Linked DNA regions of Homo sapiens. The protein of the gene in region 1 interacts with the protein of each later gene in a pairwise test. Each region holds a gene or a part of one and is shown in the gene's direction. Other genes may lie near its edges.

Region 1 (3,500 bases):
AAGGTTTTCTATCAACTTGGGAAGATAGTAGTTCTCCCCAAACTATATATAATATTCAGATAGCCTCGGTCAAGACAGGATGCAAAACTCACCTAGTATCCCAGTACATCCTCAGTTTCAGTAAACATCAGAATCCTTATGTAGCTCATGTAGGTTCTGAAGAATTTTTTTTTCTCTTAATAACCTTTTCATATCCAAAACTTTTCAGGAAATTAATTCCCCCAACTGTTGGTGATTGGTAAGGATCTCACAGATATCACTGGCAGAATTTTTCATGCCCAAATGAATTCAGGTGTACCTGCTGAAGAACTAGATTGCTAGCGAACCATACTTTGAACTCAAAGTAAGTTCAGGGATCTTTCTAATGTAATGCAGAATGCAAAAATGGAACTTATATATATAGTTTTATATTGGGAGTTAAGGGAAAAGAAAGTCATATTTCTAAATTTATGCTAAAGAGGTTCTAATAATTTTCTATTTCAACCCACTTTTAAAATCTGATGCAATTTTTTTTTTCTGAAGAGGTATTTCTTCATTTATCTGTGATGATTTTTCTTTTCTTTTTATGAGGCGGAGTCTCGCTCTGTCGCCCAGGCTGGAGTGCAGTGGCGCGATCTTGGCTCACTGCAAGGTCCACCTCCCGGGTTCATGCCATTCTCCCGCCTCAGCCTCCCGAGTAGCTGGGACTACAGGCGCCTGCCACCATGCCCGGCTAATTTTTTATATTTTTTATGAGAGACGGGGTTTCACCGTGTTAGCCAGGATGGTCTCGATCTCCTGACCTCGTGATCCACCTGCCTTGGCCTCCTTAAGTTGTGATGATTTTTCTAATAATGAAAAGTAGGACCATGGTCAATATCTTCAGTAGTAGCACTAGGCTGATGATCTTTATGTAACAACAATAATATCCTACAAATGCATAGCATGTTGGTGTTTATCAGTGTGGAACATACAGGTGGACAGGGTCAAAGCACACAACAAACATGTTATCAACCAAAAATGTAACAAGGGACAGTGTGTGTGTGTGTGTGTGTGTGTGTGTGCGCGCGCACATGTAAGTACTGATGAGAACAAAGCATTCAGCACATTGTCTGGCCCATGAATTGTAAGTTCTTGGCAAAGCTTATCCAACAGCAGCAGTTTAGTATCAACTACCAGTCGTCAGATAAGTAGATTATGTCTGGTTGATAGTTCAGTTATCAGTCTGGCAGTTGTAACTAGGACTGTTGCTTTGCTGGGACCTAAAACTTTATCAGTATTTTGTAGATTTTCTTTGGCAAAGTACTCACAAAAGTTTACCTGTCTGTGTCCAGGTTGGTTGATTGCTTCTAGGATAAACTTACTAGAAGGAGGGGCTTCAGGGAAGGTGGGATTTGAGTATTCACAGATCACTCTGTAGGGGATACCATTTATAGAACCTGTTGTGAAATTCAGTCCAGCTCTCCTTTTCCATCATGACCTTGAGAAATTGTACTCACCCAACAAATCTCATCAATATGCGGTATGATGATCAGCCTCTTTCCACGTCGATTGCAGTGGGGCACAGACTTAAGCCAAGATTTATTTTACTGCTTGACACAGCGTATTTCTTTCCCATGTAACCCAATTAATTTCAGTCTTCATGATTCCTTTAATAAGACTAAGAATTCTTTCTAAAAATAAAAATGGAACCATAATAACCCTCTATCACCCGATGTCATAAATGGTGATTTTATGTTTTTAGTGTAATTGAACAATAGGATGTGGGTGTTGGAGATTTCAATTATGTTAGCACAACTTTATGCATCCGTTTGATTGATTTGCTTTTAAAATGTGATTGTAAAATATTCCCTTGTCTCACAGGCAAGACTCGGAAAGCTAGCCTCCTATCTGCCAAGTCATCCACCGAGCCCAGCTTGAAGTCTTTTAGCAGAAACCAGTTGGGCAATTACCCAACATTGCCTTTAATGAAATCAGGGGATGCACTGAAGCAGGGACAGGAGGAGGGCAGGCTGGGTGGTGGCCTTGCCCCAGACACGTCCAAGAGCTGTGACCCACCTGGTGTGACTGGTTTGAATAAAAACCGAAGAAGCCTCCCAGTTTCCATCTGCCGGAGCTGTGAGACCCTGGAGGGCCCCCAGACTGTGGACACTTGGCCCCGATCCCATTCCCTGGATGACCTTCAAGTGGAGCCTGGTGCTGAGCAAGACGTGCCTACCGAGGTGACAGAACCGCCCCCTCAGATTGTACCTGAAGTGCCACAGAAGACGACCGCCTCTTCCACGAAGGCCCAGCCCCTGGAGCAAGACTCTGCTGTCGACAATGCATTGCTACTGACCCAAAGCAAGAGATTTTCTGAACCTCAGAAATTGACAACTAAGAAACTGGAGGGCTCAATCGCAGCCTCTGGTCGCGGCCTGTCACCCCCTCAGTGTTTGCCCAGAAACTATGATGCTCAGCCTCCTGGAGCTAAACACGGTTTAGCAAGGACGCCTCTGGAGGGCCACAGAAAAGGACACGAGTTTGAAGGAACACACCATCCCCTGGGCACCAAAGAAGGGGTAGATGCTGAGCAGAGAATGCAGCCCAAAATTCCATCACAGCCTCCACCTGTTCCTGCCAAAAAGAGCAGAGAACGCCTTGCTAACGGACTCCACCCTGTTCCCATGGGCCCCAGTGGGGCCCTCCCCAGTCCCGATGCGCCATGCCTGCCAGTGAAAAGGGGCAGCCCCGCCAGCCCCACCAGCCCTAGCGACTGTCCCCCAGCACTGGCTCCCAGGCCTCTCTCAGGGCAGGCGCCTGGCAGCCCACCAAGCACAAGGCCGCCCCCCTGGCTCTCAGAGCTCCCCGAGAACACAAGCCTCCAGGAGCACGGTGTGAAGCTGGGCCCGGCTTTGACCAGGAAGGTCTCCTGTGCCCGGGGAGTGGATCTAGAAACGCTCACTGAAAACAAGCTGCACGCTGAAGGCATCGATCTCACGGAGGAGCCGTATTCTGATAAGGTATCAAAGGTCCTGGGCCCACCACGTTCACAGGCCTTTGTTTGTAGAAGTCAGGCAGCCAGGTGAGATGAACCCACATCTGAAGCCAGCCCGGTAGCCCGCCCAGTGGACAGGAGACACCTGAATCCACGTGTCCACACCTTACTTGACATGCATGTGTTCAGATATTGACACCACCCCATTTCATCTCTCCGTAGGTAAACCGAGGTTAAAAATAACCTGCATGAAGACCTCTTAGAGGGATTACTAGGAGCAAATAAAATAAATGTGGACAAAAGAACCCTATTCAGATGTGATAATTGTATTATACAGTTATCTGTATGGGTAATGGGAAAAAGATAATATAAAATCCCCCATTGTACCAAAAACATTTAGCTGTATAATGAAAAATTATTTCTCATTCAAAAAAAATGAGATCTACCAATACCAAGTGACTCCAAAGACAAAGCAATGCTAACAGATACAGCAGTACTTTACTCCTGGAAATACAGGTCCTATTAGGATGCATTCCTGAGAGTC
Region 2 (3,500 bases), on another chromosome or scaffold:
AACACTATGCTCAGCTCTAGACGAGTCACCTGATAAAACAGCTGCCTTAAAGAGAAAATGCTCAGAATTCTGTCTTAGCAGTTTGGGGTGTGAGTGAGGGAGCAGCAGGTGCCATCCCCACCCCTCATCCCTGTCCTCTGCTGGAGTTTCCAGTTAACCTCAAAGAGAGTCCCGCAAGTCCGTCTGTGTCCTCCCTTTGGGGTGTTGCCGTCCAGTCATGCTGAAATCTGAGCTAAACATGCGGAGTTTACTTAGGAAAACGCTGCGTTTGGAGAATCGTGTGCCAGGGAGACGGACCTGTTGGTGTCCTGGTGTGAGGGATGAACAGTCTCAGGTTTTGTGGTTAAACATGAACCCTCTGTGGCCGCAGTTTCCTAAAACATCTGTTTTTGGCCGTAGTCTTGATTTTGCCATCCTCAGTCCCGTGCTGCAGCCTCGCCGGCCTCTGGGGGGCTCCTGCTGTGTCTGCAGGTGTAGCTGAGTCTGAGGCACACATCAGACGTGGGGCTGTGAGCTAACTTGCAGACATCCCTCCATTTCTTAGTTTTCCTATGAGTGGAAAATAGAAAGTCTATCTGTTGAAATTTTATTTCTCAAATTGTGGTTGAGGAAACAAATTTTTTAGACTTGGAAGTACAGATGTTCCTTGAATTAGGATATTTTCAGCTTCCCAGGGGCTCACTGGGAGGTAGCCCCATCGTAGGTCAAGGAGCTTAGTGTGCATATTGCTTTTACACCATTGTAAAATGGAAAGACCGTAAGTGGAACCGTCGTACGTTAGGAATCACCTCTAGTTTCTGAATGGTGTCCTCTTCACAATGCTGAGGTTGTCATTACCATGAGTTCCAGGCGGGCTCTCTGTTGACTGTAGGGTTGCTCGTCTGTCCCTGCGTTTCTCATGGTCCCCTCTCCTTTCTGCCCCCCAGCGGCTAGCCTTGATGTACCGAATGCAGGTTGCAAATATTGACAAGTTTGAAGAGAAGCTTCGAGCAGCTGAAGATGAGCTGAATATCGAGGCCAAGGACAGGATCCCAGTTTCCTACAAGCGAACAGGATTCTTTGGAAAGTATGTTGGATGTATTTGTTGATGCTTGAACTAAACCTAACTTGGCTTTGTAATCTGAGAAACAGATTGCAATCAAAAATCTCAAACTGTCTTTGCCTATAGTTAACTAGACTTTTTAGTGGGAGGGTTAAATAAATATAGAAGTGAATGATACAATGCCAGGAGATTTGGAAATATAGTTATCCCTGGGTATCCATGGGGGCTGGTTCTCGGACTTCCCAAGGATACCAGCACCTGAGGATGCCTAAGCCCCTGGTGTAGGATGCTGAAGTCTAAGCCCCTGATGTAGATGCCGAAGTCTCAGCCCCCGACGTAAGATGCCGAAGTCTCAGCCCCCGACGTAGGATGGCGAAGTCTCAGCCCCCGACGTAGGATGCCGAAGTCTCAGCCCCCGACGTAGGATGCCGAAGTCTCAGCCCCCGACGTAGGATGCCGAAGTCTCAGCCCCCGACGTAGGATGGCGAAGTCTCAGCCCCCGACGTAGGATGGCGAAGTCTCAGCCCCCGACGTAGGATGGCGAAGTCTCAGCCCCTGGTGTAAAATGCCGAAATCTTTGTGTGTAACCTAAGAACATTCTCTGATATGCTTTAAATCATCTGTAGGTTGATAATAATACCCAATACCCTGTAAATACTATTTCAATCGTTGTTATACTTTAGGGAATAATGACAAAAATGTGTCTGTGCATGTTGAGTATAGATGCACGTTTTTCCCCAGATACATTCATTCTGTGCTTGGTTAAACCTGCAGAGATGAAACCTGTGGCTGTGGAGGCCAACCGTGTGCAAGTCCGTTGGAGTTTGTTTAGTCACTTTCTTTAGTTGTGTGGCGCTTCTGAATTCACATTCTTGTATAATTTTCACTGACTGTGCTCTTTGATGAAAGCTTCCCAAATGGTCAGAGTGAGTGTGCAGATGCCGGAGATACCTAGTGATCTGGCCAGCCTTGTGACAATAACAACGTTCAGCTTTTTCTATTTTCAGTATATTTTGTTTTCAAAAGTAAGCGATCACTTTCAGTTAGCAAGGCAAGATCAGCCTAGCAGTAAGAAAGAAAGTCAAGGAGGACCGTGATAATGTCCTGGGCTTGCTCTCTTCTACAGACAGGAAAATGGAACGGGAAAAGGGTAGACACAGGAAGGTGAAATTCTCATTTCAGTGTTGAGAGGGAAACAGACCAGGTGGGAGCTGTCAGCACGTATGGACCATGGACCCTGACAGGTTCCTTAGTAGGACAAATGAGGGGCCAGCGGGTACTGAAACAGAGGTTTATTGTTGACTTGTAATCTCTGAAGATGTAGAATGCCAGTGACTGGCAAGTACTCCCTTGATCAAAATGTACCTCTAGCCGGGTGCAGTGGCTATGCCTGTAATCCCAGCACTTTGGAAGGCTGAGGCAGGGAGGATCTCTTGAGCCCACAAGTTCGAGACCAGTCTGGGCAGCATGGAGAACCCCATCTCTACAGAAAAAAAAAAAAGATGCACCTTTAATTCTATAACCCAGCAACACCTGGAAGATCACTGCTCTGAGGCTGTGTGTCTCATGTCTTTGTAGGCCAGTGATGTACAGAAGATGGAGGGTTGGGGCAGGCCCATTCTCGTGTCTTCGTAGGCCGATGATGGACAGAAGGTGGAGGTTTGGGCCGGGCGCGGTGGCTCACGCCTGTAATTCCAGCACTTTGGGAGGCCGAGGCGGGCAGATCACGAGGTCAGGAGGTCGAGACCATCCTGGCTAACACGACGAAACCCCGTCTCTACTAAAAATACAAAAAAAATTAGCCGGGTGCGGTGGCGGGTGCCTGTAGTCCCAGCTACTCGGGAGGCTGAGGCAGGAGGATGGCGTGAACCCGGGAGGCGGAGCTTACAGTGAGCCAAGATAGCACCACTGCAGTCTGGCCTGGGTGACAGAGCCAGACTCCATCTCAAACAAAAAAAAAAAAAAAAGAAGAAGATGGAGGTTTGGGGCAGGCCCATTCTCATGTCTTCGTAGGCCGATGATGTACAGAACAGAAGATGGAGGGTTGGGGCAGGCCCATTCTCGTGTCTTTGTAGGCTGATGATGTACAGAAGATGGAGGGTTGGGGCAGGCCCAGGGCAGCCCCTCCTCAGGATGAGGGCAAAAGTCCTGGGATTTGCTTTTTTTTTTTTTTTTTTTTGGAGTCAGGGTCTCACTCTGTCGCCCAGGCTGGAGTGCAGTGGTGCAATCTCAGCTTACTGCAGCCTCGACCTCCCAGGATCAGTGATTCTCCCACCTCAGCCTCCTGAGTAGCTGGGACTACAGATGCACACCACCACATCCAGCTAAGTTTTTTTGTATTTTTAGTAGACACAGGGTTTATTCTTACATTTTTCTTTTCTTTTTGAGATGGAGTCTTGCTCTGTAGCTCAGGCTGGAGTTCAGTGGCACGATCTTGACTCACTGCAGCCTTCACCTC
Region 3 (3,500 bases), on another chromosome or scaffold:
AACTTAGAATTTCAGACCTGGAAATGATGTTACATTTCTACTAGTCTACCTTATGTCTTTAGAACTGAAAAAATCTGAGAACCAGGAAGTTCCAGTGACTTGTTCCAGTTCAGATAGCTAATTAATGACAGAACCACAGTTAGATTTCTGTTTGCTCTCTTAATTTAATACTTTTGCACCATTCCAATGGCTTGCTTATAGAGCAGGCCATCTTTAGTCATCTCCTTTATGTTCCTTTATATTGCTTACATCACATTTTATAATCATTATACACATTTACATATTTTGCTTATATGTGTTGTATTTCAAAGAGTTTTAAGAGAATCTTATTTTTCACTCCCCAACCCTCACCCCCCTTACTACCATGGAGATCTCGTACATAATCTACCAAATTGTAAAAGAACTTTGCTTTCTGATGAGATGCCTTCCATAAAGCTTGGTTCCATCTTCCAAATAGAGGTTAGTCACTCTTCTCTCTCTCTCTCTTTTTTAGAGGGTATCTCATTAGGTAATTCAGAGGCAGACAGACAATTGCTGGAAGCTGCAAAGGCTGGAGATGTCGAAACTGTAAAAGTAAGATACAGTGTTACGTTTCTGTTAACTTTGGGTTTTTATTTTGACATTGTTATTTAATCTGTACTGTTACAATGAAGAGCCTGGTTTATTTGTATGGGCCTTGCCTTAAAAGGTCAATAATACAATCTTAATTGTTCTCTACAAATGAGTAGCTTTAAGTAATGAAAGAGAAAGACTTCACTTTCACCTGCATCCCAGTGAATATTACATTCACAAATATAAATAAATTCGGGTAATACCAAATGGGTTTTGCTTGAAGAACCTATTCATTTGTCCCTTTAACAGAATAAAGTTTATCAAATTATTTTATATTACTGTTTACGTATGACACATAAAACAAGAAAGGGGAAAAACAGTGTATCACTTCTGTCTATAGATTTCTTCTGATTTCTTCATTTCTTCACCCCATCTACCTCTAGGGATCCAGGGCTTAGTATAATAATAAATACAATGTTGCCACTTCTCTTTCCCAGGGCTTGCAACTTCAGGTCTTACCTGTTTCTCCGACAAGAGTCTTCCCCAGAGTAACCCTTCTTACTGTTTTGACTCTTGCTGTAGAAATATGTATGTAAAACTGGGCCCAGTGGCTCACACCTGTCGGTAATCCCAGCACTTCGTGAGGCTGAGGCGGGTGGATCACCTGAGGTTAGGAGTTTCAGACCAGCCTGGCCAACATGGCGAAACCCCGTCTCTACTAAAGACACAAAAATTAGCTGGGCGTAGTGGGATGCACCTGTAATCCCAGGTACTTGGGAGGCTGAGACAGTATAGACATCTCAGATAACTTCAGATTTGTTTTCTAAATTCATTTCTCACAGAAAAATGCAACTATCATGCAGTTTTATTATTTGACATGTTTTTATTTTGATCCTCATTATTCTCATTCCCTTAAGTAGGAGGCTAATAGGATATCGAAAGGAGGATTTTGTTTCTATTACTACTGACTTGTGGAAATACAAATTACTTCAGTTAAAAGGTTGTGAACTGATTTTTTTTTCAGGAAACATGAAAATTGAGTTGAAAGCAATTAGCTGATTTTTTTTTTTTTTTTTTTTTTTTTTTTGCTGTTTGTGGGAAGGGAGAGATACAGAATTGTAAATGCTCATTCTCTTACATATATTAAAGAACATAAAACTATATTTAGTAAACATGTTAAAGACTAAACTTTGTTTTTATAAAGATAGAGGGAGTCCAGAGGAGGGGATAGATAAAGAGGAGATGAAGTTGGGGGGCAGGAAATGGACTTAGGGAACACAGTAATGCCATTGGATTCAGGAAAACCTGTGCTAGGCATCAGGCTTTCTTCCCTCCCCTCTGCTTTTAAAATCACTTGATGGACATTTATCTCCATCAGCCATTCTTCTTATCTACCTCCAGACAGATGGCTCTGTACGAATCACTGGGACAAGAACATCTGCGTATTACCTAATGAACACTTAACTATTGTGCTCAGTTGTGTTTGTTCACTGATAATCCACCAGGCTGGATACTTTATTCGACACATGCTATTAGAAAACCTATCTCAGAGTGGACAAAATTAAACTGACAGGTAAAGAGTAGAATGGCCTGTGATAACTACCAAACCAAGCAGCACCTGGTACACGTGTTAAAAATAGTCATTTCTAGGAACCTGACTTGAGACCCACTGAAATACCATCTCTTGAATGGGGCCCTGAATCTGTATATCTAGCCAGATCTTATTTGGGAAGCACAGAAGAGCTTTTTACCAGGACAATGATTAAACCCCTTGAGGTAAACCCACTGATAGTAGGCTCCTTTATTTTATTGAGCTTAGGTTATCCCTGTTTTGGGAGTAGGTTAGTAAAAAGGGGGAAAGAGTTTTTACTAATATGGATATATTCTTTTTGTTTGTTTGTTTGTTTGAGATGGAGTTTCACTCTTGTTGCCCAGGCTGGAGTGCAATTGCACGATCTCGGCTCACAGCAACCTCCACCTCCCGGGTTCAAGCAATTCTCTTTCCTCAGCCTCCCGAGTAGCTGGCATTACAGGCGCCCGCCACCACGCCCAGATAATTTTTTGTATTTTTAGTAGAGACGGTTTCACCATGTTGGCCAGGCTGGTCTCGAACTCCTGACCTCAGGTGATCCACCCGCCTGGCCTCCCAACGTGCTGGGATTACAGGCGTGAGCCACCGTGCCCGGCCTAAGATAGATATATTCTTTTGACTCTTTAAGCACTCTGATTTATTATCTATGTTGCTTTTCTTCCCCAAACTTTCATACTTTTCATAACTACACTTCCTCCTCTGAACCAAAGAGCACAGAAAATTGACTGTTTTCTTAATTCTCCCCAGGACTGTATAAACCATCAGCATTTTTTTTTCCTTTTTTCTTTTTTGGAGATGGAGTCTGGGTTGGTCACCCACGCTGGAGTGTGATGGCACGATCTCAACTCACTGCAACGTCTGCCTCCCAGGTTCAAGCGATTCTCCTGCTTGACCCTCCCAAGTAGTAGAGACAGGGTTTTGCCATGTTGGCCAGGATGGTCTCAAACTCCTGACCTCAAGTGATCTGCCCGCCTCAGCCTCCCAAAGTGCTGTGATTACAGGCATGAGCCACCACGTTCAGCCTAACCATCAGCATTCTATTAGTTATTTCATTCCACATGGAGTGGTATGGTTACTGAACCACCAGCATCAGCATCACCCAAGAACTTGTTAGAAGTGGAGATTTTTAGGCTCCACACCAGTTACACTGAAAATTTGAGGGTTGGACCCAATGCACATTAAAGTTTGAGAACCACTGCTCTAAAGGAGTACTTTTCAAACTTTAATGTGTTTCCATATTACCTAGGGATCTTGTTAAAGGGCAAATTCTGACTCAGTAGATAGAGATCTGAGATTCTGAATTCTTAATAAGCTCCTTGGTAATGCTGGTACTACCGTAATCTCATGTACCTCTATG
Region 4 (3,500 bases), 4.1 Mb from region 1:
AGAGCATAGAAACAATTTTAGAAAATAAAATAGCGTGAGGCTGGGCGCAGTGGCTCACACCTGTAATCCCAGAACTTTGGGAGGCCGAGGTGGGTGGGTCACGAGGTCAGGAGATCAACACCATCCTGGGCAACATGGTGAAACCTCGTCTCTACTAAAAATACAAAAATTAGCTGGGCATGGTGGCACATGCCTGTAATCTCAGTTACTCAGGAGGCTGAGGCAGGAGAATCGCTTGAACCAGGGAGTCGGAGGTTGCAGTGAGCTGAGATTGCACCACTACACTCCAGCCTGGTGACAGAGCAAGACTCTGTCTCAAAATAATAATAATAATAATAATAATAATAATAATAATAATAATAAATAAAATAGTGTGTTTCATTTGACTTTCATAGCTGATATACTTGGTTTTCTTCGTTTAGCTTATCTTGTTCCTAGAGCTCTTCATCTAGTAAAATACAGTAGAGTAGTTGGGCATCTGGATAATGTGGCTTTATGAATCAATGCCCATTGTGGTTGCCTAAGCATATAAGCCCAGGAAGTTTGGTGAAGGTCCTATGTTTTGTAAACGTTTCCCTTGATTCCAATAGTGATAGACTGAGAAGTGTAAAGTCAAGTGAGACTGAGTGGCAGGAATGTGTTCTATGTTCTCCCTTTTAGACAATTAATAAAGTGATCTTCTGTTGATTTTGCCTTTTGACTAGTCACCTTCTAAGAACTCTGTGTTTTATAGAAATAGAAAATTTTAAACTCTGGATCTCTGGGAGTAAAACAACTATTTTTAAAGACAATGTGCAGTTTTCCTTTTATAAGATGTAAATTGTGTTTGAATCATTACCGGGCATCACTGTAACCAGCAATATCTCAGGATTAGAGAAAGGGAGATTCAGATGTTTAAAATTGGTTTAAAGAGGCAAAATGAATGGCTTGTAAGACATTGTCAGTGAAAAAATAACTGAAGTTGTTTTAACCGCCCTTGTTCTTGAAGTGAGCACCTCTTTCCAGTTTTCTAGATGAGTAGTGGTAATTTTCCATCTCAGAAATTTTATTTACCTACTTAATTTTCTTCCTTGATTAGTATGAATTGTCCAACATAAAGATGATGTGGCTGGTGTTACTATTCCTTTGCCTGCCTAGAATAGAAATGATGGGGCAGGGGCATGACCCATATCTCCATTGTTCATATTGTTAGGAAAATGGTGATTTGTTTTGTATACTCTCCCCATTAACAGGGGTAATGCAGCATGGCTTGTGGTGTGAATGCTTTGCTTATGTCTCATATTCTCTTACCTGAGAGATGGTGGTGAACAGTGAACTTCTGCAATTGACATAGGTGACACATTCAAATGACAGCATGATATGCCCTCATTTATGATTTTCAGTAGACACAGTGTATTATAAAAATTTTCAAAGTTGCATTGTCTGTGGATCATACATGACTTTTTGTTTTTATGCCTTTGTTTTTTAGTTCAAGCTCTCATTATCCTGGATTTTGATCATATATGTTTATAAAGCAGGATTGTTTTATTGCTTTCCTACTCAATAAAAATGTGAAGCCATCCTTTTGGTATGCATGTTTTCCTCCGAATAGAAAGATTCCTTTGAAGATTTCCCATACTTTTTCATAGTCATTTTAGAGGATTTGAAGGTATTTTAGATTAAGGGAAGGACTATGATAAAACCTATTATTATATATGACTTTATTATTTTTAGGAACATTCTCTACTTTTCAAAAATATCGGACAAATAAAATGATAAGATTTCAGTAATAAAAATGGTGGCATTGTTTTCCCTGATGTGTTTCTAAAGTAGATCATCTTATTGCTGCCTCAGTCTTTTGGTATTTGCTTATTTATGTGCAAGGTCTCCAGTGGGCTTGCTGATGCTTCTAGAGCCTGGCTGCTGGCTTAATATTCCTGCACTCACCAGGTTGCTTCCCAGCATAAGGCATCCTCGCCATTCATTTTTTAATTTATATGACACTGTGCTTTGGTCACCAAGACCTGAGCTGCCTCCTAGTTTTTCTAGCCAGCTTTCTTTTTTTCTTAGGACAAAGGGTCTTCTTTCTGAAGTCGGGCCTAGACAGATCAAGGTAGTTGATCTTATTTCACTGGTTCAGGTGATAAACTAGCAGAGTAGAAGCATGGCATGGATGGAAACATATATTATCTAGAAAAGGCAGTGGCTGAAGTTCTACTGATGTGCCTGAATCGTTATTTTAAAATGTCTTTCTTCTTTGTTCAAGGAATTGAAATAAACATCATTATTTTTAAGTGCATCATTATAAATTTTTGTTGTTGTATTAAAAGGGACTTAAGAAAGTGATCATTATGTGTGACATTGCCTCACTATTCTGAGTGTTAGAATGTTCAGAATAAATTCAAGACACATTTTGTAATATATAGACTGTTTGCTTGTTTTTCATGTCTGCATAGAAGGCCTTCCTACTGAAGAAATAAAAAATGTTCTGGAGAAGGTTTCATCAGAATGGAAGAATGTATCTCAACATTTGGAAGATCTAGAAAGAAAGATTCAGCTACAGGAAGATATAAATGCTTATTTCAAGCAGCTTGATGAGCTTGAAAAGGTCATCAAGACAAAGGAGGAGTGGGTAAAACACACTTCCATTTCTGAATCTTCCCGGCAGTCCTTGCCAAGCTTGAAGGATTCCTGTCAGGTAAGGAGCCAACGGTCTGGAAAGTGGAGGAATTCTATGTGCAGTTCCAGAGTTAAGGAGGGCTTCTCGTATCATGAACTTTAAGTTAATGCTGCCCTGATTAACTTCCTGTGAGGATGTTCATCTTCAGTGAGTTGTGTGACCGTATTTTCTCTTCCTTAGCGGGAATTGACAAATCTTCTTGGCCTTCACCCCAAAATTGAAATGGCTCGTGCAAGCTGCTCGGCCCTGATGTCTCAGCCTTCTGCCCCAGATTTTGTCCAGCGGGGCTTCGATAGCTTTCTGGGCCGCTACCAAGCTGTACAAGAGGCTGTAGAGGATCGTCAACAACATCTAGAGAATGGTAAACCCAACAATTTTAAAATCTCCTGTCTCAGTTTGCCTTAATGTAAACATGACTCCCAACATTTAGAACTTGAGTACACTTGCTTGCTTTGCACCAACCTTCTCCATTTTCCTTTGTGCCTGTATTGTTCAAAGTCTTAAAGTCTTCTGTATTCAGATTCTTTTCCAGATTCACACCTTTTTGTAAACATACAAGCAAGTTTCACATTCTCTAAAATTGTGTCAGTAGGATATAATAATAATTTTTTTTTTTGTAGCTACAGGATCTCACTCTGTCACCCAGGCTGGAGAGCAGTGGTGCAATCATAGCTGCAGTCTTGACCTCCTGGGTTTCAGTGGTCCTTCTGCCTCAGCCTACTGAGTAGCTGGGACTACAGGCATGCACCACCATGCCTGGCTGGTTTTTTATTTTTAGTAGAGCCAGGGTCTAGCTATGTTGCCCACGCTGGTCTAGAACTCCTGGGCTCAAGTGATCTTC

Evidence for each region.
Region 2: the proteins of SASH1 (region 1) and SPG7 interact in a two-hybrid assay, tested with the Homo sapiens proteins (one large-scale study listed by BioGRID).
Region 3: the proteins of SASH1 (region 1) and TNKS2 interact in a two-hybrid assay, tested with the Homo sapiens proteins (one large-scale study listed by BioGRID).
Region 4: the proteins of SASH1 (region 1) and UTRN interact in a two-hybrid assay, tested with the Homo sapiens proteins (one large-scale study listed by BioGRID).

What each region holds. Positions count from the first base shown.
Region 1 is NC_000006.12:148,541,838-148,545,337, forward strand, and holds part of SASH1 (SAM and SH3 domain-containing protein 1), read left to right. Parts: intron 1-1,842; coding exon 1,843-2,981; intron 2,982-3,500. UniProt on the Homo sapiens protein: Is a positive regulator of NF-kappa-B signaling downstream of TLR4 activation. It acts as a scaffold molecule to assemble a molecular complex that includes TRAF6, MAP3K7, CHUK and IKBKB, thereby facilitating NF-kappa-B signaling activation.
Region 2 is NC_000016.10:89,525,403-89,528,902, forward strand, and holds part of SPG7 (mitochondrial inner membrane m-AAA protease component paraplegin isoform 1 precursor), read left to right. Parts: intron 1-926; coding exon 927-1,066; intron 1,067-3,500. UniProt on the Homo sapiens protein: Catalytic component of the m-AAA protease, a protease that plays a key role in proteostasis of inner mitochondrial membrane proteins, and which is essential for axonal and neuron development.
Region 3 is NC_000010.11:91,836,426-91,839,925, forward strand, and holds part of TNKS2 (poly [ADP-ribose] polymerase tankyrase-2), read left to right. Parts: exon of another isoform or gene 1-228; coding exon of another isoform or gene 229-459; intron 460-493; coding exon 494-573; intron 574-3,500. UniProt on the Homo sapiens protein: Poly-ADP-ribosyltransferase involved in various processes such as Wnt signaling pathway, telomere length and vesicle trafficking.
Region 4 is NC_000006.12:144,456,335-144,459,834, forward strand, and holds part of UTRN (utrophin), read left to right. Parts: intron 1-2,435; coding exon 2,436-2,677; intron 2,678-2,839; coding exon 2,840-3,020; intron 3,021-3,500.